2 separate regions of the Homo sapiens genome follow, and region 1 is linked to region 2. Evidence: fine-mapped expression QTL. A gene starts in region 2. The other region holds a variant in brackets. All regions are shown on one strand. Distances are between the middles of the regions.

Region 1 (13,389 bases), 38 kb before region 2:
TACTTGATAATTTGCAATTTTGATGTCATTAGTGGTTTCTGGAATACTAGTTATAATTATCAAACCAGGCATGTAATGAGATTTTAAAGCTTAAAAGTAATTAAGAAGGACATCTGGGAAATATTCTTTTCTATTTTATAAACCAATATAAACATTGGTTTATAAAATAAATATGCAGAGGTTGGTTCTTACTGAAAGAGCATTCTTTTCTTAGCTGTGCCTTGAAACCAGTGAATTGCTCCCAGAGCTTAGGTGAGTGGCTGTGGTGCCCACTGGTTGTCCCATTAGAAAATGCGAGTGGTGGGGTTTCACCCGGGGTGAGGGTGGTGGACATCCCAGTCAGAGCCCTGGGGAGGGAAGGACTTGGAGGCTCAAGAAATTTAGAGGATCATGTATTAGGTAAGATGCACTTCTCTCTCTGAAGAGCTCAGCAACCCTTTATATCTCCCAAGCCCATGGGGAGTCCGGAGACTCATTCTCATGTGGATTATTTCTTATACAAGACCACAGGATACGTAATTAAAATTATAGCAGTTGCTACCATTTATGGGACAGTTTCAGTGTGCCCACCAAGCACTTTCTGCACATTTCTTTTAATCCTCACAAAAATCCCCTGGCCTGTGTTCCATTTACAACCCTGTTTTCTAGACAAGGAGACGGGCTCAGGGAAGTGAAGTGACTTCCTTAAGGCCAGCTAGCATACGGCAGAGGTAGGTTTTGAAGCTCCATCTGGCTCTGCTTTTTGTCATCGCCCCACAAACAACGAGCTCCAGGGAGCACCTGCCATGATTCCCTTGTGGGGCTAGGCCACCCCAGCAAGTCTCAGAACAAACAGAAGGCAGACCCTTTCTCAGTGAACTTATAATCTCATTAGAGATCAGAGCTTCACAAACGAGAAAGAATAGTACCATTACCTGTCTACCTGACTGCCATCCATCTCCCTTCCTTTTCCCCCTGCCCTGACACTATGAACTTATCTTAAAAAGAAAATTAACTAAGCAGATGCTCCTTTAACTCTAAAAGTTTTCTGAGGCCAGCCTCCATGGCTTATTTAATTTTGTGCCCTCACTGTCTGGAACAAACCTCCCCAGAATGGCTGCCTGTGGCTATTACTATAATTACTGAGATTGCTCTTAATTGAATGAAAAGCTTCAGTGGTGCTGCTTGGTCAAGAGGCACCAAGCAGAAGTAAATTCTTTGTTTTTTAGTGTCTTAAATGTTGGGAAGCATTACTACCCTTGAATGCCTCTTGCTGCCGGGAAAGGTTGTTCTCCCTTCCGGGAATGCCAGTAAGGCCTAATTGAGGATCCATTATCCTAAATGTCTCGCAGGACCATTATGAAATTGAGATTTGCATTCTGCAGGCATTTGATTTAGGATGCTCATAAAATTCTAAATACCCCATGCATCTGCCATGTAATCTGGTTCAGTAAAGAACACAGTGGCCCCAAATATTTCTGCAACCACAAAATATTTTAGAAAAAGGCCCAGGGAAAAGAATCCAGTATTTCTTTATCTGTAGTCTAATCATGATCTAGCCATATGCCTTCATTATTATAATAGGCACTTAGAACATCAGAGGCCTTAAAAGAACATAAAAATCTTAAGGGTGTTTTCATCAGTAGCCTTGGAGAAGCTCAGTGTGCTGTGCTTATGAACCCTGTGTGACACCCGTGGGAATCAAAGCAAAGGAAGGAGGCAATGATCCCATGACCACCAGGAACAATGCAAACCTAGAATCAAAATAAAAGTTTCTCCGCTGGTTGAATTGGAAGGCAAAGGGTGTGAAGGGATCTTTTCACTCAACATTATTGTCCTCTGAGGAATTGATAGAAGACTCTGATTTTAGAAGCCAAGAATAACTCATCGGCTCCAGCCTTAGTCCAGCAGCTTTTGTGTTAGGGTGGCGTCACCTGTGTCATGTATACTAACACTGTGCTTGCCTCTCCAGGTGGCTGGGTGGCCTGGTCATCTGCTCTCTGCTGACCCTCATCGTGATTTTTTACTACCTGGGCTTACTGTGTGGCGTGTGCGGCTATGACAGGCATGCCACCCCGACCACCCGAGGCTGTGTCTCCAACACCGGAGGCGTCTTCCTCATGGTGTGAGTGTCTGCTCCTCTCTGTCATGTGGGAGTGGGAATGCAGGAGAGAGACTGGGTGCTGACTCTGGTGTTACATGAACCCGGCGCCCTCTGGGCCACGTACGCGGGGTTCCAGCTCCCAGGTCGCGAGGAGGAGAGATCCTGCTGTGATGGGACCTTCCTTGATTTGGGTACTTCTGTCAAGCCTAAACATTAAAAACAAACAAACAACAACAACAACAACACTAAATTACTTGCATTTTGATAGACCAGCTTAAGCACACTATTTATATATGGCAGGCTCCTTTTAAAAGCAGCTAGACTTGCTTTCTTGATTTCTATTGTTCCTTCTTTTTGTCATTCATTCATTCATTCATTTATTCACTCACCAGAGGCTGAGCCAATCTCTTGTGGGACAGCAGTATTGGTCAGCAGTATTGCTAGCTTGAAATTCTAGAAACTTGATTTAGAACTAAGGCTGCCAAGGCAGAACCCTTAGGATTTAGACAGGTAGCCTAGATTAGGCGTGAGAACAGGTGTGAGGCAGCAGGGAGAGGTATGCCTGCGGCAGAAGACTGGAGCGACTGTCCCTGCTTCAAAGACATTGACCTCCAAGTTAGTGTCTTTGAAAAACCTGTGACTCTATGGATACGACAAAGCATAGCAGGCATGAGCCAGGTGCAACCGGGGCCAGAGCCAGAAATGTAAGCTAGGATGTGGTGTAATGGCTTTGAATGCTCTGCAGGGAGAGAGCTGTGTGGGTTCTAAGTCAATATTCTCTTTTTGATAAGATCATGAAGAATCAGCAGTAGGGAGTGAGATGGGGCTCTAGGTCAGTGGTTAAGGTTTGAAACAATTCCTTTGGGGAGTGAAGAACCAAAACCTGAGTCGTGTTCTCTCATTTATCCACTTAAGTCACTAGCACGGGGCTGTGAGTGAGCGGGCTGGAGAGCAGATGCTGTACATTAATTTGATTAATTTGTTTTTTAAAACTTTGGGTCTTCAAACCAAATTTTCACACACACACACACACACACACACACACACACACACACACACACACCAAACAAACAAAAAACTTTGGGTCACTGGAACAATAAATCAGGCTTCTTACAAGCTATGATTATAAATCCTTTCCCTACAATAATTAGGCTCCAGTATGGTATAGGCCTTTACAAACTAGAGTCGTAAAATCACCTTAGAGCTAATGACCTGAGGTCTACCAGGGCTGGACAAAGAACTCCACACAAACAGAAGCTTAGATGCTCACAGGCCAAAGCTTAAGAAATTATATTTGTCTGGGCACGATGGCTCACGCCTGTAATCCCAACACTTTGGGAGGCCGAGACAGGCAGATCACTTGAGGCCAGGAGTTCGAGACCAGCCTGACCAACATGGTGAAACCCCATGTCTACTAAAAATACAAAAATTAGCTGGGCATGATGGTGCACACCTGTAATCCCAGGTACTTGGGAGGCTGAGGCACGAGAATCACCTGAACCCAGGAGGCAAAGGTTACAGTGAGCCGAGATCGTGCCAACTGCACTCCAACCTGGGCGACAGAGTGAGACTCTGTCAAAAAAAAAAAAAAAAAAGAGAGAGCGAGAAATAAAGAAAAAAAGAAAGAGGAAGGAAGGAAGGAAGGAAGGAAGGGAGAGAGAGAGGGGGAGGGAGAGAGAGAGAGAGGGAGAGAGAGAGGAAGGAAGGAAGGAAGGAAGGAAGGAAGAAAAAGAAAGAAAGAAAGAAAGAAAGATTAGCTGCAAGTACCTGTGGACAGAGAAGAAAAAAAGGAGAAATCACATCTGCAAGGAAAAATGAATTTGTCTTCCCTTCTTGTTCAAATGTACACAGATACACAAAAATACATTAAACAGAAGATTATTAGGTTGCTGTAAAAGTAATTGCAGTTTTTGCCATTACTTTTAATGTTTAATTGATTTTAAGTTTAATGTTACAAATTTAACAACAATTTAACTTGGTTGTTTGTTAGTGTTTTGGTGGGGTGTGTATATATACCTATATTTCCATCTTTTTTAACTACTTGAAAGGTAGGGTAAATTGCTCTGAAAAATGGTGCACCCCTCATCGAAATTTTATTCACACTTTTTAAAGGGATACAACAAAAAATGTGATATCAAGCTTCAAAGAAAGAAAAAATAAAACAGAGAAATCATCAACAAATTGATGGAGGCTAAAAGCTACCTTAGTTTAGATATACTAATTCTATAGACATGGAGACCTGTGGCATGGAGGCCATAGGATTCATCTCAGCAGCAGGAAGAAGGCTGGTAACTGTCAGATGTTGTTTGATTCATTTCAAGGAGTCTGCAGACTTAGGGTGGCTATGATTTCTTTATTGTTGAATGCAACCAGTCAGCATGGCACGCTTTGCTGTGCTTGGCAGAATTCTCTGCTTCTTGAGGTATCTGGTAAACAACTGGATAATTGCAAAAGGAGGAGATGATACAAGCGTCATCAGTCTAATCAGACTAATTAGAAGAATGCAGTTTCTTTTTTTAAAACTGTTTACTTGCTTGTAGAAACCAGAAAGAGTATGTGTAGTTTTGTTGCAACCAAAACACCACCTGCTCTTTAAAAATGGTGACACCATCCAATCAAGAGCATGGTCTCTTTCAAAACCAAGCAGGAATTCTTACCTCCCAAAAGGATACCAGTGAAAGATCTGGAAGGAGGAAAGTCAGAGAGCCCTGGCTCTGCTCTGATCTTTTATCTTCAGATGGTCCCAGAAGCATTTTATTTTAATTTTATTTTTGTGGAGACAGTCTTGCTTTGTTGCCCAGATTGGTCTTGAATTCCTGGTCTCAAGAGATCCTCCGACCTCAGCCTCCCAATGTGTTGGGATTACAGGTGTGAGCCGCTACCCCTGGCCCCAGGAGCATTTTAGCAGCTGAATAGGATGCAGTGGTGAATGTATTATCTGTTGCAGGGGGGCGTAGGAGGCCTCTCCAGAGATAAGGAGATCTAACAGAGGCACAAGCATCTCGTGATTTGAAGCCCATCATAAAACTTCCCATTTTAGGTATTGACAACAATGCCAAGAGCAGCCACAGGTATCACAAACTGGGCACATTCCTATGGCTGGTGGCAGTTTCTGAGGTTATGGAAAGCAGTTTGTCAGGCTATATAGCAAGGGCTGTAAAAAGACCATGATGCTCTTTGCCGAATAATTTCCATTTTGGGGAATCTAGGTGAAGGAAGTAAGCCAAACTGTGAAGAAATCATCATGAAGAGGGAGGTGTTTTGCAGTATTAGTTATGATAGTGAAGCACTGGAAACAGCCTACATGTCCAGCTGTAGAAGAGTGGCCAAGTGAGTTATGACACATCCATGCGTGGAAGATCACATGGCCCCTGAAATGATAACTAGGTGACAGTCCTAATTTGTTGACAAAAGTTTCTAAGATAATGCATTTGAAAGGGGGTCAGAAAATGATGCATGTATTATCCTAACTGTGCAAATCAGGGGTTAGTCAGCAAGCTTTTCCCAAGAAGGGCCAAGTAATAAATATTTTAGGTTCTGCTGGCCATACACAGTCTTTGTCGCATATTCTTGTTCTTTTTCACCTTCTTTTGCTCTTTCATCTTACTCTTATTCTCCCCCTCCTCTTCCTCCTTTTCAATATTTTCAGTACACATTAGCCATTATCTCACTAACCTTAGAAAAACAGACCTTGGGCAGTGGTTCCCCTACCCCTGATCTAGGAATGTGCATATTTAGAAAATAAAGGCTGGAGATAGTGACTGTATGCGATTTAGAGTAAGAGTCATGGTGCCCTTTTTAGACAGCTGTCTTGGTTTATATGAGTTGTTTAACTCCAACACACAGACACACATGCTCAGACAGGGATCCTGGCATGGCCCTCACTCACTTCTTCTTTGTGCTCTCCCAGACTCAGAAGCCTTGTAGGTCAGAGAAAGTCAGGCTGACCTAGGCCTTTCCAATGAACATTACTTGCTATTTATTTTAGTGAAGATACACAAATATTGTAATTATGGCTTTGGCATCTGCAGGCAAAGGGGAGAATCGTGCCCTTAGGAGGGGATGCTGTGGTGATTGCGAGCATCAGCCCACACCCTTCTGAGGCTCCTTCCTAGTGTGCACCAGTGATGGTATTTGATTTGGCAGCTGCACCTAGATCGATTTAAGAGTTTGTTCTCTATGTCTACATCTAGACAGCTAAGCACTGCTAGAGAAAAGCTACGCACCGGGTACATTGGGTATCCCTACAAACTTAGGATCTCCTGTCTCAAATGGACTTGCCATAGTCTGACAAATCTTTTCTTTTATTTCTTTTGTTTTCTTCCTTCTCTTTCTGTTTTTTTTCTTTTTCGACACCCCCCACACTTTCCTGCAACAGTCTTTTCACTCTGATACGTCCATTTTCCTCTACTTCACCCCTCTCTCAGCAGATGGCTTTACCTCCTTCTTCTCAGAGAAAATAGAAGCCATCATGCAACTTCCCATCATCAAACTTCCAAACACACCTGCTCTCAAACACATCCATCCCTTCTCTGCAGTGCCAGAAGCAGAGGGATTCCTGCCTGCTCAGGTTGATCCCGCCAGCTATATTCTCAATCCCATTCCTTTCCCTGATCCTGATAAAATGGATCATCCCCTTTCTTTTCCATGTCTTTATTCTCTTCCTGTCTCCTTGACTTTCACTCAATACTTAACCAGGCTCTGTTCTCTCCCTTCTTCAGAAATAAAAGCAGAAACTCTTTACCCACACTGCCTCTTCCCTATAGCTCTCCTTCCCCCACACAGGCTCTCAGAGGAGTGATCTGCGCTTGCTGCCTGTGCCCTCCTCTCCTGCTGACTCTCCGGTCCACTCCGATGTGGTTTCCTCCCCCATGACTGCACTTGTTTCAAGTTGGCAGTGACCTCTCTGTGCAATGCAGACAGCACATTGGTTGGTGACAGCCGACCATTCCTTCCTCCTGCAAACACTCCTTTTGTCCCCTAGGTGGCATCACACCCACATAGTTACCTTCCTACTTCTCTGCCTCATCATCTTGGTCTGGTTTGCTGGCCCCTCCTTCCACCACCCATCTTTGTAAATGTTGAAGTCTTCCAGACCCAGCCCTAGGCTGTTTCTCTCTCCAAGCCAGCCCTGGGGATAAATGACCATGGCTAAGCTGCTGGCTCCCTAAGGTACATCCGAAACCCAGATATCTGAGCTCCAAACATACTGACTCCTACACAGTCTTTCCATTCAGTGTCTCTGGCAACAAGACCAACATCCAGCCCATCTTCTCTTTCCTTCCAGAGCATCAGCGCTCCCTGGCACTGCCCTTGGAGCCCTTCCTTGCCTCTACCTCTCGTGTTCAGCGCTTTCCGAGTCCTGCTGCCTCCTATATTATGCCTCCTGTGTCTCCTATATTACATCTCCATCATCCACCAACTCTCCACCAATCCTGCCCCCTTAGGCCACCCTCATGGGCCATGATAACAGCCTCTGCAATGATGTCCCATCCACGTTGGCACCTGTCCAGTCTATCCTTTACACTGTGCCAAGAGTGCTTGCGTTCAGAGAGAAGTCGGGTTGTGCTCCTCGTGTGCTTTCAGCCCCTTATTGGCTACCCCTCGTGGGTCCCCAGGCCCCTATACAGTACATCCCCGCCTTCCCTGGAGCTGTCCCTCCCCAGGTCCCCAGGCCCCTATCCAGTGATCCCCCGCCTGCTCTGGAGCTGCCCCTCCCCAGGTCCCCAGGCCCCCATCCAGTGTACCCTTGCCTGTCCTGGAGCTGCCCCTCTCCAGGTCCCCAAGCCCTGTGTCACTCCTAGGTGGATGATCTGTTTCACCTGAATAACACTGAAGACCCCAGGGCTATTTTATAGAGTATAGGTAGATTTAGTAAGTATCAGTAGGTAATATTGAATCATTCTTTGTTGAATTACTAACTTTATATTTTTTTCCAGTGGAGTTGGATTAAGTTTCCTCTTTTGCTGGATATTGATGATCATTGTGGTTCTTACCTTTGTCTTTGGTGCAAATGTGGAAAAACTGATCTGTGAACCTTACACGAGCAAGGAATTATTCCGGGTAAATATGATTTTCTACCCATTATGAAAGGACTTGAACAGAAACTTGGATTTCTTCATATATTGTGCATTACTTTAAGAGCAGTGCAAACTTATAAGCAGTTTGGTTTAAATTCAGTAAATTTCTTGAAATTATTAAATTCAATAAATTTTCAAATATTCAATAAA[T/C]TCAGTAGATCCTTTCTATTTGTAAGAGAAAAAAAAATATGGGAGCGTCCTTATTTTCTGATCATAAGCGAAATCAGGGTCAGGAGTTAAAGTCCTGCCGCTCAATGTGGATTGCAGTATTTGGGGAGAAAAGAATTTTCCTCAGCAGTAGTTTCCAAATGTGGCTGGGAACATCAGAAGATCAGTTCCCAGGTTCCTCCCACACACCCTGGGAGATTCCCAGGTGACAGAGGTGTCCACACAGATGAGCCCTATATTTGAAGGGAAAGAGACTGATAAGCGGATGACTCGTGGCAGAGGGCTGACCTGGCACACGTCTAGTAGTGCCACCAGGAAATGAATTCAAGCTTCGCTTTCTCCCTCTCAGTCCAACTCCCACCGACTCCGGGGGACCAGTTGGCAGTTTTGCTTTCTTCATTAATGAGGAAATTTTGTTGTAAGTGTCTGGCTTCTAATTGTGGCTTTTCTGTGTTTTTTTTTTCTCCAGATTCTGATTTTTAAAATATATTTCTATTTCACTCTTTCATTGTATATACATTTTTCCGCCTAAGATCTGTTATGAAATCAGGAGAATACTGTTGTCACAGTATTTTAGTTATTTCACTGGTCGAGGGAGATTAAGTTGAGATCACCAGCAGGTCAAATGATCTCCATTTGGCCTTTTGATAAAAGAAAGACATCAAGCCAGGCATCATTATCTCCTGTAGAGTGTCGAATCATTCAAAGATAATTTTTCTTAAGTACGGGATATTTCAAAACCATTTCTACTTCTCAAGCGCGTACAGTCATGCATTGATTTGCCCATCTTAAATATGTATGATGCAGAGGCAGAGAGTGTGTGAATTTTTTTTTTTTTTTAAGACGGAGTCTCACTCTGTCACCCAGGCTGGAGTGCAGTGGTGCCATCTAGGCTCACTGCCAGCTCCGCCTCCCGGTTTCATGCCATTCTCCTGCCTCAGCCTCCCGAGTAGCTGGAACTACAGGTGCCCGCCACCACGCGCGGCTAATTTTTTGTATTTTTAGTAGAGACGGGGTTTCACCACGTTAGCCAGGATGGTCTCGATCTCCTGACCTCGTGATCTGCCCACCTTGGCCTCCCAAAGTGCTGGGATTACAGGCGTGAGCCACAGCGCCCGGCCAAGTGTGTGAATTTTAATACATTTTGTCCAGAGAGAGAAATAGCGCAGCACTGGGTCCACCACTTAATGGCTGTATATTAGCTATTCTGATCAAATGGTCTACTCTGCTTCTATTTATAATGTGTTTGTTTTATTAAGATAAAGGTTAAAGATTAAAGAGTTCTCGGCGTGGTGGCTCACGCCTGTAATCCCAGCACTTTGGGATGCTGAGGTGGGTGGATCACCTGAGGTCAGGAATTCAAGATCAGCCTGGCCAACATGGTGAAATGCTGTTTCTACTAGAAATGCCATTTCTACTAAAACTACAAAACTAGCCAGGCAGTGGTGGTGCCTGTAGTCCTAACTACTCGGGAGGCTGAGACTGGAGAATCATTTTAACCCGGAAGGGGGAGGTTGCAGTGAGCTGAGATCGCGCCACTGCGCTCCAGCCTGGGCAACAGAGCAAGACTCTGTCTCAAAAAAAAAAAGTTCTCAAAAAAAGTAATTTTAATAATTTTGATTGATGCTACCCATCAATAAATATAATAAATTGATTTATTCCAATTATACTATTATTTTCTAGTTATAAGTTGGAAATCAACCAGAAAAATAATGTTATGAAAAATTTCCAAAATACATTCAACAGAATATTAATTTTATTATATTAGTATGTATGTTAGTGTAAAACTGATTTTTCGAAAATACTTCCTAATGTGTTCTAGGTTTTGGATACACCCTACTTACTAAATGAAGACTGGGAATACTATCTCTCTGGGAAGCTATTTAATAAATCAAAAATGAAGCTCACTTTTGAACAAGTTTACAGGTATCAATATTTGCATTATACATTTCGCTATTTAAGATGTTCTTTTTCTGGAATGAGAATTTTGCATTTGAAGTGTTTTTAAATCTTAATTATATGACTTTCATGTTTCAGAGATAAGCTGTCCTGTATTATTTTAAAGACACAGTAGAAATTAGATCAAAAATATATTCCTTCTACTGAAAGCCTTTGAGACCTTGGAATGGTGATGTTTCAAGGTCTCGCTCTCCAATAATCTCTGGAACTCACTAGTTAAGGTGACCCTACGATGCACTAATGGGACCCCATGAGAGATCTTGTTCAAGAACCACATTGCTCTAAGTAAAAGCCATCCAACAAGAATAGTGAACAGGTGATTCAGTGATTTGGATCACTGATAGGGGGAAGGCAATGCAGTTGGAGAGCTGTCTGCTGTCAGGACTCCTGGGCTCTGACCCCGGCCCCCTCCTGGAGGCTCTGTGCCCTGGGCAATTCCACATCTTCTCTGTTCCACGGGGGTCATGATCATAGGAATCTGACCCTGGGGTTGTTTTAGGGTTAAGTAAGATACATGAGATTCGAATGGTGCCTGACACATCATTTGGACTTGATAAACAATACCTGTTCTTAATATTGTTCATCTAGGCTGGCCATAGTGGCTCATGCCTATAATCCCAGCACTTTGGGAGGCTGAGGCAGGTGGATCACCTGAGGTCAGGAGTTCGAGACCAGACTGACCAATATGGTGAAATCCCATCTCTACTAAAAATGAAATACAAAAATGAGCCAGTCATGGTGGCATGTGCCTGTAGACTCAGCTACTCAGGAGGCTGAGACAAGAGAATTGCTTGAACCAGGGAGGCGCAGGTTGCAGTGAGCCAAGATCGTGCCACTGCACTCCAGCCGGGCAAAAGAGTGAGACTTTCTCTCAGGAAAAAAGAAAACAAAAAAACTATGTATATATATATATAACAACTCCTGACCTCAGGTGATGTATACTACCAGCCATCAGACTAGGAGCCCATTTCACCACTGGGCAAAAGCAGACACTACACAGTGAGCTAAGAGAAATGCATTTCATATATATATATATATATATGTTTGCATTTCATATATATATATATATGAATGAACGAATATATATTTCATATATATATATGAACGAAATGCATTTCATATATATATATATGTTTCATTGAAATGCATTTCTTTTAGCTCACTGTGTAGTGTCTGCTTTTGCTCAGTGGTGAAATGGGCTCCTAGTCTGATGGTTGGTAGTCTTAGGTGTCTGATCTTAGGTGTGAACCCATGGGCAGCTCTCTGCTATGAGCCACAGGGAAGGGAGTCACTTTAAGAGTATTTGAAATCAGTTCACAGGATGCTTTTTAAACACTGGTGACACTTATTTCTCCCACTGTGAGACCGAAGGGCCGGAGGATGTGTGTGTTAACATGGTGTGTTCATAGTGAATGAAACTAAAAATAACAGGGCGATAGTGACTCACATTGAGAGCAGAACACTTCATAAGTCAGAGACACAGAAGCCCTTCCATGCCCTACACGTGAACCACCATTCTTAGTGTTCTTATTATTCTCTCAGAGTTCCTTTATGCAATTTTAAGCAAGTATTAACCCTATGCCTAGCGTTATTATATAGCTTAGTAGTATTCGCCATCATTTGATATTCAAGAGACTTCTTAAGCATTTTGTGAATTTGTTATACTTTTAGGTATTGCAAGGTTCTTTTTGTACTTTTTAAAAATATTTTGAAATATGCACACATTTAATTAATCAATGGTCATTAGTTCCTGTAGCCAAACCACAGAAGTTATTTTAAAACAAATGTAGCTGTGTCATTACTAAGTATTTATTTATTTATTTATTTATTTATTTATTTTCTGAGATGGAGTCTCGCTCTATCACCCGGGCTGGAGTGTAATGGCACCATCTCAGCTCACTGCAACCTCTGCCTCCTGGGTTCAAGCGATTCTCCTGCCTCAGCCTCCTGAGTAGCTGGGATTACAGGTGTCTGTCACCACGCCTGGCTAATTTTTGTATTTTTAGTAGAGATGGGGTTTCACCATGTTGGTCAGGCTGGTCTCGAACTCTTGACCTCAGGTGATCCACCCACCTTGGCCTCCCAAAGTGTTGGGATTACAGGCGTGAGCCCCAAGCCCGGCCATTACTGTTTATTTCTATTACCTAATAAATATTATGCTAAGTGGTAATAGTGGTAATTTAACAAAATGCTAAGAGCTAGCACCTGCATGGTGCTTTCTGTATGCCAAGACTGATGGAAACACCTCGGTTGTGTAAACTTCTTTAATATCCACACCACTCTGTGAGCTAGGTACCATACTAACTACTTTTATTATTTTATGAGCACCTGTTGTAAAGCGAGCTAAGTACCATACTAACAACTGCTTTTATTATTATATGAGCACCTGTGGTAACGGTATACCTGAGATATTATACAAAATTGAATTAGACTCTGGTCCTACTTGTCAAGGAAAACCTAGCAGGGAGTTAGATCTGTAAAGAAGTGTTCTAGAATACAGTGATACTTACAGGTGACAGAAATGTATTGAGGCTACTCTAGAAGCCCCAAGGAGGGTGTCTTATGCAGTGTGGGAATGGAGGGATTAGGAAGGACTACCTGAGGGAAATGGCACCTAAGCTGATCTTAGTAGGTTAGTGGGGATTGGCTGGGCCAAGAAGGAAAAAGGTACCTCGGCCGAGGGACACAGACAAAGGCAGGGAGGTAGGGGCAGTAGGCTACTCTTTGGGAGCTTTTAAAAATCCCACTACCACTTTGGGGCCAAATACAAAGTTAAAGGACAGAGAAAAGTCCTCGTTTCCATTATTCAGCCCATGGCAGTGAAAACTGAGCTTCTGGAGCCCTGAGACAACACTCAGAATGAACTTATAAATGTTACTCGTAGGCTTTGTCTTCTAAATCTTTCTTAAATCTTCTTCTTCTTCCTCTTCCTCCTCCTCTTCTTCTCCTCCTCCTCCTCCTTTTTCTTCTTTTTCTTCTTCTTTTCCTCCTCCTCCTCCTTCTTCTTCTTCGTCTTCTTCGTCTTCTTCTTCTTTTTCTCTCTCTCTCTCTCCTTCCAACTGGTCTCCTTGTTCCCATTCCATCCTCCAAACCTCCAAG
Region 2 (15,740 bases):
CAGCAGAAAACATACTAAGACACTGCTTAAATTGGCTTGTTTTGCTCATTTCCTGCTTCTGAGGTCTCCAGAGTTCCCTCTCTTCCAGGATAGGATGGATATACTGTCTGGAGGAGAGGCAATGCTAGGCAGGAGGAGAAGAACCAGTGATCCTGTTAGTGTGCCCAGCATCCCTCTGCTCAATAAGGCAAATGTAGATGTTCTTTGGAAATGATTGCCAGAGCCTACAGTCCTTCATAATGTTCAGCTCCAGGTCCTGGTGAGGTGGACAGTAACAAGAGATTGAGCCAGCCCCTGCTTGCACCCTTTTCCAGGGGCCCTTTGAGCCCTTTCGATAAAGAGTTTGTTTCTTTACCGAAAGCATAAAAGGTAGTGCAAGAAGAGGCACACAGAACCAAGCATGTGCACTTTCTAAAGTGAAAAACTTTAGAAGGAATGTCTTGCCTGGCAGATGCCCTGATGTCCTCCGTGCATGTCCTCCCCCAACCTCATGTGTCTGATGCAGCACTGCAGTGAGGCACGGTGGATCCTGCAGGTTCAGAGGGGTTGTGATCCACCTGAAGTCACAGTCGGGCAGGGTGTGCCAGAGTTGAAACTGCCGACCTTCCAGATGGAGTTCACTAGTCTCCCCCTGGCGTATACCTTTTTGGTTGTCAAGGCCATTATCACAGAGTCACTTTAGAGGACACTAGGGCTACTGTTGATGGTTCACCCAGAGAGCCACTTAGAGGCCGTGTGCACTGCCTGATCTTACACCCAGGAATTTGTAGTTGTAACAAGGTCCCTGCGGAACTTCCATTTGCTTCTGTCTTCTGTCCTAGAAGTGGACTTTAGAAAGACTCTTGTGGTAGACATGTGTACTGCTGTGTTGCTGCTGGTCTAATGTCTTCAACACGTATTCTTAGTGACTCTTAACACTTTTAACCTTAGATTGTGAATATTCACAATTCTTACTTGTCATAGTCTGTTTATCCTCTTTATCTTCTATGCTGTTTTTAAAAGCAATACAAACAGAAGCTAGAGTAACCAGTGTTTTGTCTGACACATTCTTCTTGATAAACTTTATGAGGTGTGGTTTATATTCGTCTGTACCTTTAGTCACATGCCTGCTTCTTAGCACAGAGGTGATGAAACCACCCACAGCTTTGTTGGGGGTATTATATTTCTTTATTTTTTTGTTTTTTAGCCCATCACAACATTGATAGCTGATGTTGAAACTGCTTGAGGTAAGTTTGATGCTTTCATTGAAGAGAATCTACAGGACTATAGTTTTTAGTTTTTAGAACATCAAAACATAGCTATTCCTAATACATTGCCACATTAAGTGGGAAATCTAGATCAGCATATTAGACAAGATATTTTATATGTCCAGTCCACCCTCTGTACCTGCAGGTTCCACATCCACCGATTGATTCAACCAACTGTGGATCAAAAATACTCTAAAAAAATTTTTTTTTAAATAACAGTACAAAAATAAAAATAATAAAAACAATACAGTATAACAGCTACTTACATAACACTTACATTGTATTAGGTATTTTGAGTGATCTAGAGATGATATACAGTATGTAGGAGGATGTGTGTAGCGGTCCTGGAACCAATCCCACATGGATCCAGAGGGACGACTGCATGTATACATACGATACAGTGACCCTCTCTGTATATATATGCATTGCTATATAAATGTGTGTGTATTTATATATATATATACACACACACAGTGAGTATGTGGGTGTATATTAAAAAAATAAAATTTTTTTACTTAAAAAGATAAGATTTTTTAAGTAAAAAAATAAGGGCTGGTGCGGTGGCTCACGCCTGTAATCCCAGCACTATGGGAGGCCGAGGCGGGCAGATCACTTGAGGTCAGGAGCTCAAAACCAGCCTGGCCAACATGGTGAAACCCTGTCTCTACTAAAAAAAGTTAGCCGGGTGTGGTGGGGGGCCCCTGTAATCCTGCCTGTAATCTCAGCTACTCAGGAGGCCAAGGCAGGAGAATCGCTTCAACCTGGGAGGCAGAGGTTGCAGTGAGCCGAGATCACACCACTGCACTCCAGCGTGGGCAACAGAGTGAGACTCCATCACAAAAAAAAAAAAAAAGAAAAGAAAAGAAAGTGTTTTTTTAGAGTAAAACAATAAGCCAGGCATGGTGGTACCTGCCTGTAGTCCCAGCTACTGGGGTGGGAGGCTGTGGTAGAAGGATTGCTTGAGCCCAGGAGTTCAAAGATGCAGTGAACCATGATTATACCTGTGAATAGCCAACACACTCATGCACTCCAACTTGGAAAATGTAGTGAAACCCTATCTCTAAACAAACAAACAAACAAACAAAAATATAGAAATCTGTGTACCAACCACGTACCTTGAGTATTATGGACTTAAAATTTTTTCTGGCTGGGCATGGTAGCTCATGCCTGTAATCCCAGCACTTTGGGAAGCTGAGGTGGGCAGATCACTTGGGGTTAGGAGTTCGAGACCAGCCTGGCCAACATGGAGAAACCCCATCTCTACTAAAAAATATAAAAATTAGCCAGGCATGGTGGCAGGTGCCTGTAGTCCCAGCTACTTGGGAGGCTGAGGCTTAAACCCGGGAGACGGAGGTTGCAGTGAGCTGAGATCGCGCCATTGCACTCCAGCCTGGGCGACAGAGTGAGACTCCCTCTCAAAAAAATAAATAAATAAAATAAGATAAATAAACAAAAACCACAAAGTTTTTTTCTATATTGCTATATTTTAACAGATTGCTTTGCAACAAACATATTGCTGTGCCTCTTGAACGAGTTTATATTTTCCTTAGTTCTTAGGCTCCTGGTGGGGACCATTTTAGGATTATGCATTCCTGGTTTTCTCTTTATTAATTCAAAAGCAATTTCTAAAATTGTGTTTAACTTTCATTTCAGCATCAGGATACTCAAAGTGGAAAGGATCACAGATTTTTGGTAGTTTCTGGGTCTACAAGGACTTTCCAAATCCAGGAGCAACGCCAGTGGCAACGTAGTGACTCAGGCGGGCACCAAGGCAACGGCACCATTGGTCTCTGGGTAGTGCTTTAAGAATGAACACAATCACGTTATAGTCCATGGTCCATCACTATTCAAGGATGACTCCCTCCCTTCCTGTCTATTTTTGTTTTTTACTTTTTTACACTGAGTTTCTATTTAGACACTACAACATATGGGGTGTTTGTTCCCATTGGATGCATTTCTATCAAAACTCTATCAAATGTGATGGCTAGATTCTAACATATTGCCATGTGTGGAGTGTGCTGAACACACACCAGTTTACAGGAAAGATGCATTTTGTGTACAGTAAACGGTGTATATACCTTTTGTTACCACAGAGTTTTTTAAACAAATGAGTATTATAGGACTTTCTTCTAAATGAGCTAAATAAGTCACCATTGACTTCTTGGTGCTGTTGAAAATAATCCATTTTCACTAAAAGTGTGTGAAACCTACAGCATATTCTTCACGCAGAGATTTTCATCTATTATACTTTATCAAAGATTGGCCATGTTCCACTTGGAAATGGCATGCAAAAGCAATCATAGAGAAACCTGCGTAACTCCATCTGACAAATTCAAAAGAGAGAGAGAGATCTTGAGAGAGAAATGCTGTTCGTTCAAAAGTGGAGTTGTTTTAACAGATGCCAATTACGGTGTACAGTTTAACAGAGTTTTCTGTTGCATTACGATAAACATTAATTGGAGTGCAGCTAACATGAGTATCATCAGACTAGTATCAAGTGTTCTAAAATGAAATATGAGAAGATCCTGTCACAATTCTTAGATCTGGTGTCCAGCATGGATGAAACCTTTGAGTTTGGTCCCTAAATTTGCATGAAAGCACAAGGTAAATATTCATTTGCTTCAGGAGTTTCATGTTGGATCTGTCATTATCAAAAGTGATCAGCAATGAAGAACTGGTCGGACAAAATTTAACGTTGATGTAATGAAATTCCAGATGTAGGCATTCCCCCCAGGTCTTTTCATGTGCAGATTGCAGTTCTGATTCATTTGAATAAAAAGGAACTTGGAAAACATGGTCTGTATGTTACTTCCTTGAGTAGATCCAGCGACTCACAACTTAGATGATGAAATTTGAGCATGTGTTATTTGTGAATTCCATTAATTATTATTAAAGGGCCCATTATACAGAAGTAATTCAAGGTCAAGGTCAAAGTGGGCTATATTTTAGATCTTCTTCAGATCTGAAGTCATCATTTCTTAGGGAACTGTCCAGGTCACAATATATACAATTGGATACCAACTATAGGCAAACTCTACTTTGCCTGATGTAATCCTAAACATACACCAGTAAAAATGAATTTTTTTAAAACAACACACAAGAGGCTTGCAATTTAAACAAGACTATATAGTGTATAATTCTTCTGGAGGAAATTATCTCTTAACTTCCCATTTTTTGAAAACCTGATTTTTGTATCACCCATTTAAATATTAATTCAAGTTATTCAAGCCAACTTAATACTCCTAGTGTCACTCTTGCAACTTTTATTTATTTATTTTTCAGTATCTCAAGCCTAAAGTTCTTATCTTTGCTAAAAAAAAAAAAAAAAAAATCAGCCTGGCCGGGCGCAGTGGCTCACGCCTGTAATCCCAACACTTTGGGAGGCCGAGGTGGGTGGATCATGAGGTCAGGAGATCGGGACCATCCTGGCCAACATGGTGAAACCCCATCTCTACTAAAAATACAAAAATTAGCTGGGTGTGGTGGTGGGCACCTGTAGTCCCAGCTACTCGGGAAGCTGAGGCAGGAGAATCGCTTGAACCTGGAAGGCAGAGGTTGCAGTGGGCTGAGATCGCACCACTGCACTCCAGCCTGCTGAGAGAGCGAGACTCTGTCTCAAAAAAGAAAAAAAAATCAGCCTTTCCTCAACCCCATTGCACACTCAGCCTGGTAGTACAAGATGTTTTCTTTTTTCCCTCTCTCTTTGGAAATAATTTCCTTGAAAGAACTCTCGACACATCTCTGTCCACTTTCTCATTTCCATTGGTTCTTCAACTCCTGTGACCTGCCTTCTGTCCCCACCACTCCTGAAGGGCTATTGTCGGGGTCACCGAGGACTTGACTTTTGTGAACACATCCCCTTTACAAAGATCTCCCTTCAGGCTCCCAAAAGAGCCCTCTCCAGTGTCCTCTTGGGGCATGGCTGTCTATTCCTCAGTCTCCTTCCAACACTCATCTCTCCAGTTCTTAAATTTAGGTGGCATTCGCAGGTTCTCTCCTGGTGTGCCCCTCACTCTCTCCTTGGGTAATTTCATTCACTCATCACCTCACCTGCTCCCTTTGGTTCTCTCATCACATAGAGCTCCAGCCAACCCTGTGTTCATGACATGTCTCCACCCAGATGCACCTTAAACCAGAGGTTGGCAACCTTTCTCTGAAAAGGGTCAGACAGTGAATATATTTTGCTTTCTGGGCCATGTGGCCTATGTCTCCTCAACTCTGTTGCAGCACAAAAGTAGCCATAGGCAATACGTAAGTGAATAGATATTGCCGTGTTCTTCAAAAATTACAAAAGCAGGCCACATGGGCCACAGTTTGTGGCCCCTGCCTTAAACCACTGTCCTGACCTGCACATCGCCACAGGTTCTCCCCACCATGTTCCCTTTCTTGAATTTCTCCACCTTCACCCTATCACTGGAGCTGGAGGAACTCTTAAGTCTGCTTTCCCCCTCCCTTCCATCTACCTTTGGTCACAAAGCCTTCCTCTCCATCCCCACTGATGAGATCCTCTTACAGTTTTCATAATGTCTCTTGGCTAGCGAGGCATTCCCCTCTTTCTTTTAGGCTTCCAGCCCCCTGAGTTTTGGCTAGACATAGGCTACCTGGTGGGGACTATATTTCCCAGCCTCCCTTGCAGCTAGATGTGGCTGAGTGACTAGGCTTAGGCCAGCAGTAAGTAAGTGAAGTGTCTACTAAGACAAAACTGCAGATCCTGGACTTGTTCCACTGGAAATGGCAGCAATCAAACAAACCTTGGAAGGCATGTGTTAAATTTGAAGAACTTCCAGGCATGAACCTGGAAGACTGGTTCATAATAGAGAAGGTCTTTTTGTTACAGCAACTCAGCCCATACAGAGCCAGCTTGCCCACTACCCTCCCTGTACAAAGTCCCCCTGTCCACCAATCCTTTCTCAACACAGCAGTCTCTTACAGTGCAAATCTGATCATGACACTCCACACTTAAAAGATGAACAAGCAAATAAGAAAGAAGAGAAATTGGGCTGAGCATGGTGGCTCACACCTGTAATCCCAGCACTTTGGGAGGCCAAGGCAGGTGGATAATCCGAGGTCAGGAGTTCAAGACCAGCCTGACCAATATGGTGAAACCTTGTCTCTACTAAAAATACAAAAATTAGCCAGATGTGGTGGCATGTGCCTATAGTCCCAGCTACTCGGGAGGCTGAGACAGGAGAATTGCTTGAACCCAGGAGGCGGAGGTTGCAGTGAGCCAAGTTCACGCCATTGCACTCCAGCCTGGGTGACAGAGCAAAACTCCGTCTCAAAAAAAAAGAGAGAAATCACTGCCTTCAAGAGGATTAAAGCAGGATGAAGTGATAGAGGAACAGAAGAGCTCTTTTACATTGTATAGCGAGGGAAGGCCTCTGTGAAGGTGGCAGGGAGAAGGCAGCCATGCGATGTTCAAGGAAAAGATTTTCAGGCAGTGGGCACTAGTGCAAAGGTCTTGAGGTTTGGCTTGTCCCAAAAGCGAAAAGAGGAAGAGCGTGATTAGAGCTCTTATGATAAGTTCCCATTGCAGGGTAAACTCAGCCTCACTAGGGCATTGAAAAGGGCTGGCCATAACCTCAGGGTGTCTAGATGGGTCTAGCAAGCTGTTCCCTGCAACACTGTGGTGGGTGGGGGAAAGGAGGTTGGAGCTGAACACCTGCCTTCCTGTGGCCACGACATGGAGCCTGGGTTGGAGTGCTGTTTACTCCAGGGGCTCCTGAGTTGGAAGCACACAAAGGGCAAGCCTCTGTCTTAGAACTGGCCCTGTGGATTGGTACGGGGGCTGCGGACCCCACCCTAAGTCACCTCTCCAGCCTGATTCTCACCACTGCCTCCTTGCCCTTGACATTTCAGCAGTCCATAAACCTGCACTCCAGGATCACTCCTTTACAGGAAGCATTATCCTGCCTTAAGAATCTGCCCTTGGCCAGGCGCAGTGGCTCGTGCCTGTAATCTCAGCACTTAGGGAGGCTGAAGTGGGCGGATCACTTGTTAGGAGTTTGAGGCCAGCCTGGCCAACGTCGTGAAACCCCATCTCTACTAAAAACACAAAAATTAGCCTGGCATGGTGGTAGGCGCCTGTAATCCCAACTACTCAGGTGGCTGAGGCAGGACAATTGCTTGAACCTGGGAGGTGGAGGTTGCAGTGAGCCAAGATTGTGCCACTGCACTCCAGCCTGGGTGGCAAAGTAAGACTGTGTGAAAAAAAAAAAAAACCTACCTTTAGCTGGTTGTGGTGGTTCACATCTGTAATTCCAGTGACTCCAGAGGACAAGGAAGCAGGAGGATTGCTTGAGGCCTGGAGTGTGAGATCGGCCTGGACAACAGAGTGAGACCCTGTCCCTAAAAATTTTAAATTTAAAATTTAGCTGGGTGTGGCAGCCCATGCCTGTAGTCCCAGTTACTTGAGAGGCTGAGGCAGGAGAAGTAATTGAGCCCAGGAGTTGGAGGCTACAGTGAGCTATAATTACACCAGTGCAATCCGGTCTAGGTGACAGAATGAGGCCAAAACAAACAAACAAACAAACAAACAAAAAAAACACCTGCCCTTTACCCTTTCTCAACCTGACAAATTGACTGACTTGTCTTGAAGGTTTGGCACCACTTCTTGGAAGCTTCCTCTGCTCCCCACCTGGGGTGATGCCCTCTTCTGGAAGGCTCTCACTGCTACACACACAGTGGCTGCCGAAGCTCAGCCTGGCTTTAGTTCCAGCCCTACTAGGTCTTCTCAGGACTCAGGATATCCAGGTGGAAGGAAGGCTGTGCCAGGTACCAACTACCCTACGTGGGATCGCCAAGATAAATCCCTCACATTCAAACTAGTCCCCCAACATCCGTCAACCCTATTCCTAACAGCAAATTGCCACCTTTAGTCCACTCCACAGTGCCCTCTGGAAGGGTCATCAAAAGACAGTTATGACCATACCAAACTATGATTCTTGACACAGAATCAAAAGTTATTTTCAATTTATTTTTTTTCTATTGTAGAACAATAATAATAATATTTAAAATCATATTTTCCTGTGATATAATTAAAACTGTGTTATTTCAATTGAATTTGAAATAGAATTCATGGTCTAAAATAGACTGAATCCCACTGTGAACATATATTTGCATGCCTTCCTCGTCATCATTCAGTTGGTGCAATTGTAAGGCATGCAATAACAAGGGAAGTGAACATTGCAGCACTGTGGCCTGTGGCCACGGTGATGGCGGGACAGCCCCACAGAGGCCACACCAGGTGACTCTCAGCTCGGTGGGTGGGAGGGGGAGTGTCTCTGTGTCCCTCTGGCACACACATCCTCACACAACCTCACATAGTCTTTTTTGCATTTGCTAGGCCATCTCATAACACTTAGGCTCATAAAATTCTGGCTTCCTTTGGATTAACTAAACCCATGGTCCCCCAAGATGGGGATTCCAGGGAGCAGGAGGGAGCCTCGAGGCAGCCCAGACTCCCAGCTGCAAACCTCACTTTCCAGAATACCACTGCCACACCTTGGCATATACCAAATGTTGACAAAGAAGGCTGTTCCCGTACAAGGGCCAATTTTAGAGCAAGCACCCTGTGGTTGGAAAACTGTAAAACCCTCAGCCCCAAAGCTGTGTGTGGCGCTTTGTGCGTGACAGGGCTGGGGCAGATCTCTCTGAGGCACTCAGGAAAACCATTCCCTTTGCTTGTGGTGGGCGGCCCCTGGTGGCTGCTCTGCCCTTGCCAAGTGTTACGTGTCTAAGGTCTGTGGGCATGTTTCTCATTTGCTGCAAAACATCCTCCCCACCCTTGCAGAGAAAGAGTCTTTTGTGCAGCACCCTTTAAAGGGTGACTCGTCCCACTTGTGTTCTCTCTCCTGGTGCAGAGTTGCAAGCAAGTTTATCGGAGTATCGCCATGAAGTTCGTCCCCTGCCTCCTGCTGGTGACCTTGTCCTGCCTGGGGACTTTGGGTCAGGCCCCGAGGCAAAAGCAAGGAAGCACTGGGGAGGAATTCCATTTCCAGACTGGAGGGAGAGATTCCTGCACTATGCGTCCCAGCAGCTTGGGGCAAGGTGCTGGAGAAGTCTGGCTTCGTGTCGACTGCCGCAACACAGACCAGACCTACTGGTGTGAGTACAGGGGGCAGCCCAGCATGTGCCAGGCTTTCGCTGCTGACCCCAAACCTTACTGGAATCAAGCCCTGCAGGAGCTGAGGCGCCTTCACCATGCGTGCCAGGGGGCCCCGGTGCTTAGGCCATCCGTGTGCAGGGAGGCTGGACCCCAGGCCCATATGCAGCAGGTGACTTCCAGCCTCAAGGGCAGCCCAGAGCCCAACCAGCAGCCTGAGGCTGGGACGCCATCTCTGAGGCCCAAGGCCACAGTGAAACTCACAGAAGCAACACAGCTGGGAAAGGACTCGATGGAAGAGCTGGGAAAAGCCAAACCCACCACCCGACCCACAGCCAAACCTACCCAGCCTGGACCCAGGCCCGGAGGGAATGAGGAAGCAAAGAAGAAGGCCTGGGAACATTGTTGGAAACCCTTCCAGGCCCTGTGCGCCTTTCTCATCAGCTTCTTCCGAGGGTGACAGGTGAAAGACCCCTACAGGTAATACCCTTTCCTTTACTCATATACAGAGACTACGTGTATATACTTATATACAGAGACTACGTGAGAGGCACTTAGCACTTTCACAGCTGCTGCGACCACATCAGAGTCTCAGCGTGTGTTTGGGGGTGGGTTTGAGGCTGTCTGTTGCAGAGCAGTGTAGATGAGGTAGTTCATCCGGAGTGGCACTTGACCCTGGAGTTGCATAGGAATCACCTACAAGGAGCTCTAAAAATGCTGATGCCCAGGCCCCTCGCCAGACCGTTCCATCTATGTCTCCAACATAGTAGCGCAGGAATGTGGACTTTTAAAACTCTCCCCCAAGTGATTTGAATGTGCAGCCAAGGTTGAGAATCTCCTTGTGATGGAACCACCTCACTGTTAGACCGAGGCCTTTGGAATTCTGCCGGGTAACGTTTCCTAATGAACCAAGCATTTGCTGCAGCTGTTAGTGGCCGAGGTGCTATGTCATGGTGGAGGTGTCGCCACACCCCGTCTTGTTCTCAGTTTTTTCTCCTACAGTCAAGTTAGGGTGGGGAGTGTTGTGCACTGAGGAAAGTTTGAGTCAAATAGTCTTTAAAGTCTTTCTCACAGCTCTCAAAGCCTTTAATTGTTTTTTGTTCATCACAGAGGAGAAAATCTAATTAATAATAACAGATTTAATCAACTCCAAGTATTGCTTTTAAAAGACCAAACTTTTTCTTGTGGAAATAAGGCTTATTACTGATCTCTATCCTTAAATGTAGCAGCTTTCATTAATTTTGCACACCAGTAAGGAGTTCATTTACATGGGATTCTAGTCTTACTTGTGCACTTTGAGTTTAAAAGGAGAGTTTCTGAGTTTTTTTCATATTATCTATGTAAGAAAAATAGGAACAAAGCAGATTTCCTGATAAACAGCACTTTGATAACGAATACCACCAAACAAATAAGGCTTTTTCTACAAGCGCCCAGGCAGCAAGAAATGTTGGTTCACAACAAAGTTGTTTTGGTGTCTGCTGTTCTGGGCTGGAGGTTTTCTGCTTGTTTAAGATTTCAGATCTGTCCCAGAGGAGAAAAGGGGACACTTAAGCCAAAAAAAGTTACTATTGAGAGGAGGTCCTTTTTTTTTTCTTTTTAAAGTGATTTTTTTGGTCTTTCTACAAATAAGACATACAAATCATTTGAAAAATTCAAACACAACAGAAAAATACAAAGAATTTTAAAACTTCATCCATAATCCCACCACACAGAGATAAACAATGTTAACAGAAGAGTACCCATTTAGACATCCATCCATGCGTATTTACACAGACAGATGTACAGCGTATATACAGATGCATACAGGCGCTAAAGCTCAAAACAATATCTTGATCCTGCAGATAAGCTGCATAGGACTACTGTATTAGCTTGCTGGGGCTGCCATAGCAAAATACCACAGAATGGGTGGCTTAAACAGCAGAAATATATTTTCTCACAATTCTGGAGACTGAAATTCCAAGATCAAGGTGTCAGCAGGATTGGTGTCTTCTGAGGACTCTCTCCTTGACTCATAGATGGCAGCCTTCTCTCTGTCATTCCTCTGCGTGGGTCTGTGTCCTCATCTCTTTTTGTTAGGATACCATTCACACTGGATGAAGTCCCACCCAAACAGCCCCATTTTACCTTAACCACCTCTTTAATGGCCCCTATCTTTAAATACAAACGCTCCCTGAGGTACTGGAGGTTAGGACTTAAGTCTACGGTTTTTAGGTTTTGGGAGGGACACAATTCACACAATTCAACCCATAACAACAAAGAAAGAATTTTTCATCCCTTCCTTTTTTTTTCTTTTTTTTTTTTTTTAGATCTGACCTCTCCCTGACAGACAACCATCTCTTTTTATATTATGCCGCTTTCAATCCAACGTTCTCACACTGGAAGAAGAGAGTTTCTAATCAGATGCAACGGCCCAAATTCTTGATCTGCAGCTTCTCTGAAGTTTGGAAAAGAAACCTTCCTTTCTGGAGTTTGCAGAGTTCAGCAATATGATAGGGAACAGGTGCTGATGGGCCCAAGAGTGACAAGCATACACAACTACTTATTATCTGTAGAAGTTTTGCTTTGTTGATCTGAGCCTTCTATGAAAGTTTAAATATGTAACGCATTCATGAATTTCCAGTGTTCAGTAAATAGCAGCTATGTGTGTGCAAAATAAAAGAATGATTTCAGAAATACGACTTTAGTCTTCTTAATGAACGTGATACCTAGATGCTATAGGGATCATGTATACCCATGAAGTCACTATTATTTTATTCAGGGTGCCATCGTGCATTACACAGACTAGGTGGCTTAAAGCAACAGAAATGTGTTCTCTCACAGTGATGGAGGCAAGAAGTGCCTCAAGATGTCACCAAAGTTAGTTTCTCCTGGAGGGTCTCAGGGAAAATCTGTTCAATGCCTCTCTGTCAGTTTCTTAAAGTTGCTGGAATCCTTGACATTCCTTGGCTTATAGACATATCACTCTAATCCCTGCCTCTGTCTTCACATGGAATTTTCCCTTGCGTGTGTGTCAAATTTCCCTCTCCTGATAAGGGCACCAGCCATTGGATTAGGGTCCATCCTAATCAAGAAAGACCTTATCTTAACTCCATCATGTCTGCAAACACCCTATTCCCAAATAAGATCATATTCACAGATTCCAAATGGACATAAATTTTTGGTGGGCACTATTCAACCCAGCACAGCCACCATGCAGCAATAGCAACTAGCCAAAAAGATAGAGAAGTGAACCTGAAAAAGAACAACCCTGTACACTCAGCAATTAAATTAATCAACAGAGTTGGAAAGGAAGAAAATTAGATTTTATTAGACATACGCGAAAAGTGACTCACTTCTTAATTTCGTATTTGTCTTACCTAAGAACACATTAATAGTCTACTCTCTCTCTTTTTTTTCTAATGGCTATTTATTTATTCGAGATGGGTCTCGCTCTGTCACCCAGGCTGGAGTGCAGTGGTGCAATCTCGGCTCACTGCAACCTCCGCCTCCTGGGTTCAAGCGATTCTCCTGCCTTAGCCTCCCGAGTAGCCGGGATTACAGGCATGTGCCACCATGCCCAGCTAATTTTTGTATTTTTAGTAGAGACAAGGTTTCACCATGTTGGCCAGGCTGGTCTTGAACTCCTGACCTCAGGTGATCCGCCCGCCTCGGCCTCCCAAAGTGCTGGGATTACAGGCGTGAGCCACTGTACCTGGCCCACTAGTCCACTCTTGATGTACTTAAATTGTTTCCCCAACTAGCCCAGCAGTGCCCAACCCTAGCTACATAATGGAGTCACCTGGGGCAACTTTTCAAAAACACTGGTGCTTGGACGTCAGCACCAGAGGTTACGGTGTAACTGGCCAGGGATGGGGCCTGAGCATGTGCAATTTTACATTTCCCCTGGTGACTCTAATATGCAGCCAAGTTTGAGAAACACCGCCCTTAATTAATTGAATTAGAATCTCTGGGGTGTATCCTAAGTAATTTCCAGGCAATTCTATGTGTAACCTGAGTTGAAGACTACTAATATGGCCTCTATATGTAGTTCACACAATTAAGAAATATTTATTCATCATCAACTATGTCCCAGGCACTGTGCAACACATTGGCTAGGGGAGACATGAACTAACCAACTAGGTTTCACATCTTAGAAGTGCAGTGAAGTAGTGGAAACCAAGACAACACATTGATGAGTGTTGGAGATGACACAGAAGGCGGTGGGTGGGGGCAGCCAGGGGACGTTTGCTGGGGTTGAGTTTCTAAAATATATATACATCAAGCATCTACTGTGACATACCAAGTCTATTTCTTATAAGGGCTCTGAGCCTTTCACTCACCCCCTCATATAGCTCTCACTACATCCCTAGGAGGTAAGTAGTTTTATTCCCAATTATAAACCAAGGGACTTGAAAGTCTGGAGAGGTGAGTTGTACACAGCTTGTTAAGAGTCAGGACAGCAGAGAAATCCAGGTTCACCCAATTCTAATGCTCATGGCGTTCAATTTGTAAACATCACAGGATAGGCTGGGATTTGTCACAGACCATTTTTCACCAACATTTTAAACTAACATCACCATATAGCTGACCAGTGATTTTAAAGATGAAAATCTGTGCTACCCAAAGGGTGACAGGTGGGGCAGAGGCATCTGCTTCTGCTGGGGAGCTTTAGAAATGCTAATTCTTGGCCGGGGACGGTGGCTCATGCCTGTAATCCCAGCACTTTGAGAGGCCGAGGAGGGCAGATGACCTTAGGCCAAGAGTTTGAGACAAACCTGGCCAACATGGCGAAACCCTATCTCTACTAAAAAATACAAAAAATAGCTGGGCGTGGTGGTAGGTGCCTGTAATCCCAGCTACTCAGGAGGCTGAGGCAGGAAAATCACTTGAACTAGGGAGGCGGAGGTTGCAATGAGCCAAAATCATGCCCCTGCACTCCAGCCTGAGCGACAGAACAGGACTCCATCTCAAAAAAAATGCTAATTCTCAGGCCCCACCACAGACAAACTGAACCAGAGTATCTGGGGTGAGGCCCAGAAATGTGTATTTTAACATTTCCATGTGTTTTATGCAGAGTAACATTGGCCAAGCAATATTTCAGTCATCCTAAAAGGAAAGGCTTTGTTAAACCTTAAAGCAGATAATTCTGACATAGGCTACAATATGGACGAACCATGAGTACATTATGCCAGATAAAATAAGCCAGTCACAAAGGACAAATACTGCATGATTCCACTGATATGAAGTACCTAGACTAGTCAAAAATCACAGATACCAAAAGTAGAATGTTGGCTGCCAGAGACTATGGTGAGGTGAGAATGGGAAGTTAGTTTAATGTTTACAGAGTTTTAGTTTTATAAGATTAAAAGAGTTCTTGAAGTGGACAGCAGTGATGGTTGCATAACAAATGTAATTAATACTACCAAATTATACACTTAAAATTGTTAAGATGGCATATTTTATGATATACGTATTTTATTTGAATTTTATAAAGAAATTTTAAAAAAGAAAAGGAAATTCTTTTCACCAAAAGGTGCTGAAATAACAGCATATCCATGAGAAAAATATGAATATCTACTATTACTTGATACAAAAAAATGAACTGAAATTTGTTTATACACTGAAATGTAAAGGGTGGTTTCTCCCTAATACTGGGGGTGCTCCTTTCCTTCGACAGTGACATAATCTATTTGTTCTAATTCAGTAACTGCTACATCCATCTTTATTAATCAAGTACTCACCCACACCCAGGCCTTCCTCATTGATGGGTCACCAATCATGAGGGCTGGGAACAGTAGTAGAACTCAGCCACTGAAAGAGTTCATTACAGTTCACAAATTCTAGCAATTAATCATATGATCTTCCATATTCAATAAGCCAAACCAGGGAGTGGTAGAAGCAACAGATTGGAGTCACCCTCTTTGTGTTGTCACTGATGGTGTCAAATAATGATGAAACCAGTGAAGATTCCCAGGTGGTAGGGTCAATTTAAAAAAAGAAAAAGAGCAGCGGTTGAGAGATTTTATGGTGAAATCATAGACATAGAGAACCGATCTCCCTGAATCCCTGCCTCTTCTGTCCTGATTTTCTCCAATCACCTCCTCCAAGGGGAATGTTTCCTCTGAGGATCAGCTGCATGTAATGCTCACATTGTCTGCTAAAGATGTGTAGGACACAGTGCCGATAACATCATTTGTCTAGTAATTTTCTCAGTCACATCTTCCAAAGTCTATCTTACCACTTAAAAATGACGCCAACCTGAGACCAAGGACATGAAATGTGCATTGAATGTTTTGTCCATTAGCCCACTACTGGGGGCACCATTGCTGTGAACAGTACGGCATCGTCTAATTACAAGTGAACCGGATACTAAGCCAAGCAGAGAATAGTCTCCAGTGCCACTACGGTGT

The links.
Region 1: its variant is fine-mapped to the expression of FGFBP2 in tibial nerve (GTEx, PIP 0.92).

What each region holds. Positions count from the first base shown.
Region 1 is chr4:15,995,253-16,008,641 of GRCh38, reverse strand. PROM1 (prominin 1) reads left to right here. Exons shown (of 28, transcript NM_006017.3): 13 at 1,952-2,104; 14 at 8,023-8,146; 15 at 10,154-10,257. Among named protein-coding and RNA genes, the nearest start is that of FGFBP2, 39 kb to the right of the region's middle. The variant T/C (reference allele first, on the strand shown) is at 8,314.
Region 2 is chr4:15,956,529-15,972,268 of GRCh38, reverse strand. FGFBP2 (fibroblast growth factor binding protein 2) reads left to right here and starts at 9,094. Exons shown (of 2, transcript NM_031950.4): 1 at 9,094-9,831; 2 at 11,658-12,024. The coding sequence starts at 9,140. The coding sequence ends at 9,811. PROM1 (prominin 1) reads left to right here. Exons shown (of 28, transcript NM_006017.3): 27 at 1,187-1,226; 28 at 2,901-4,041. The coding sequence ends at 1,202. RefSeq lists an enhancer at 8,223-9,064.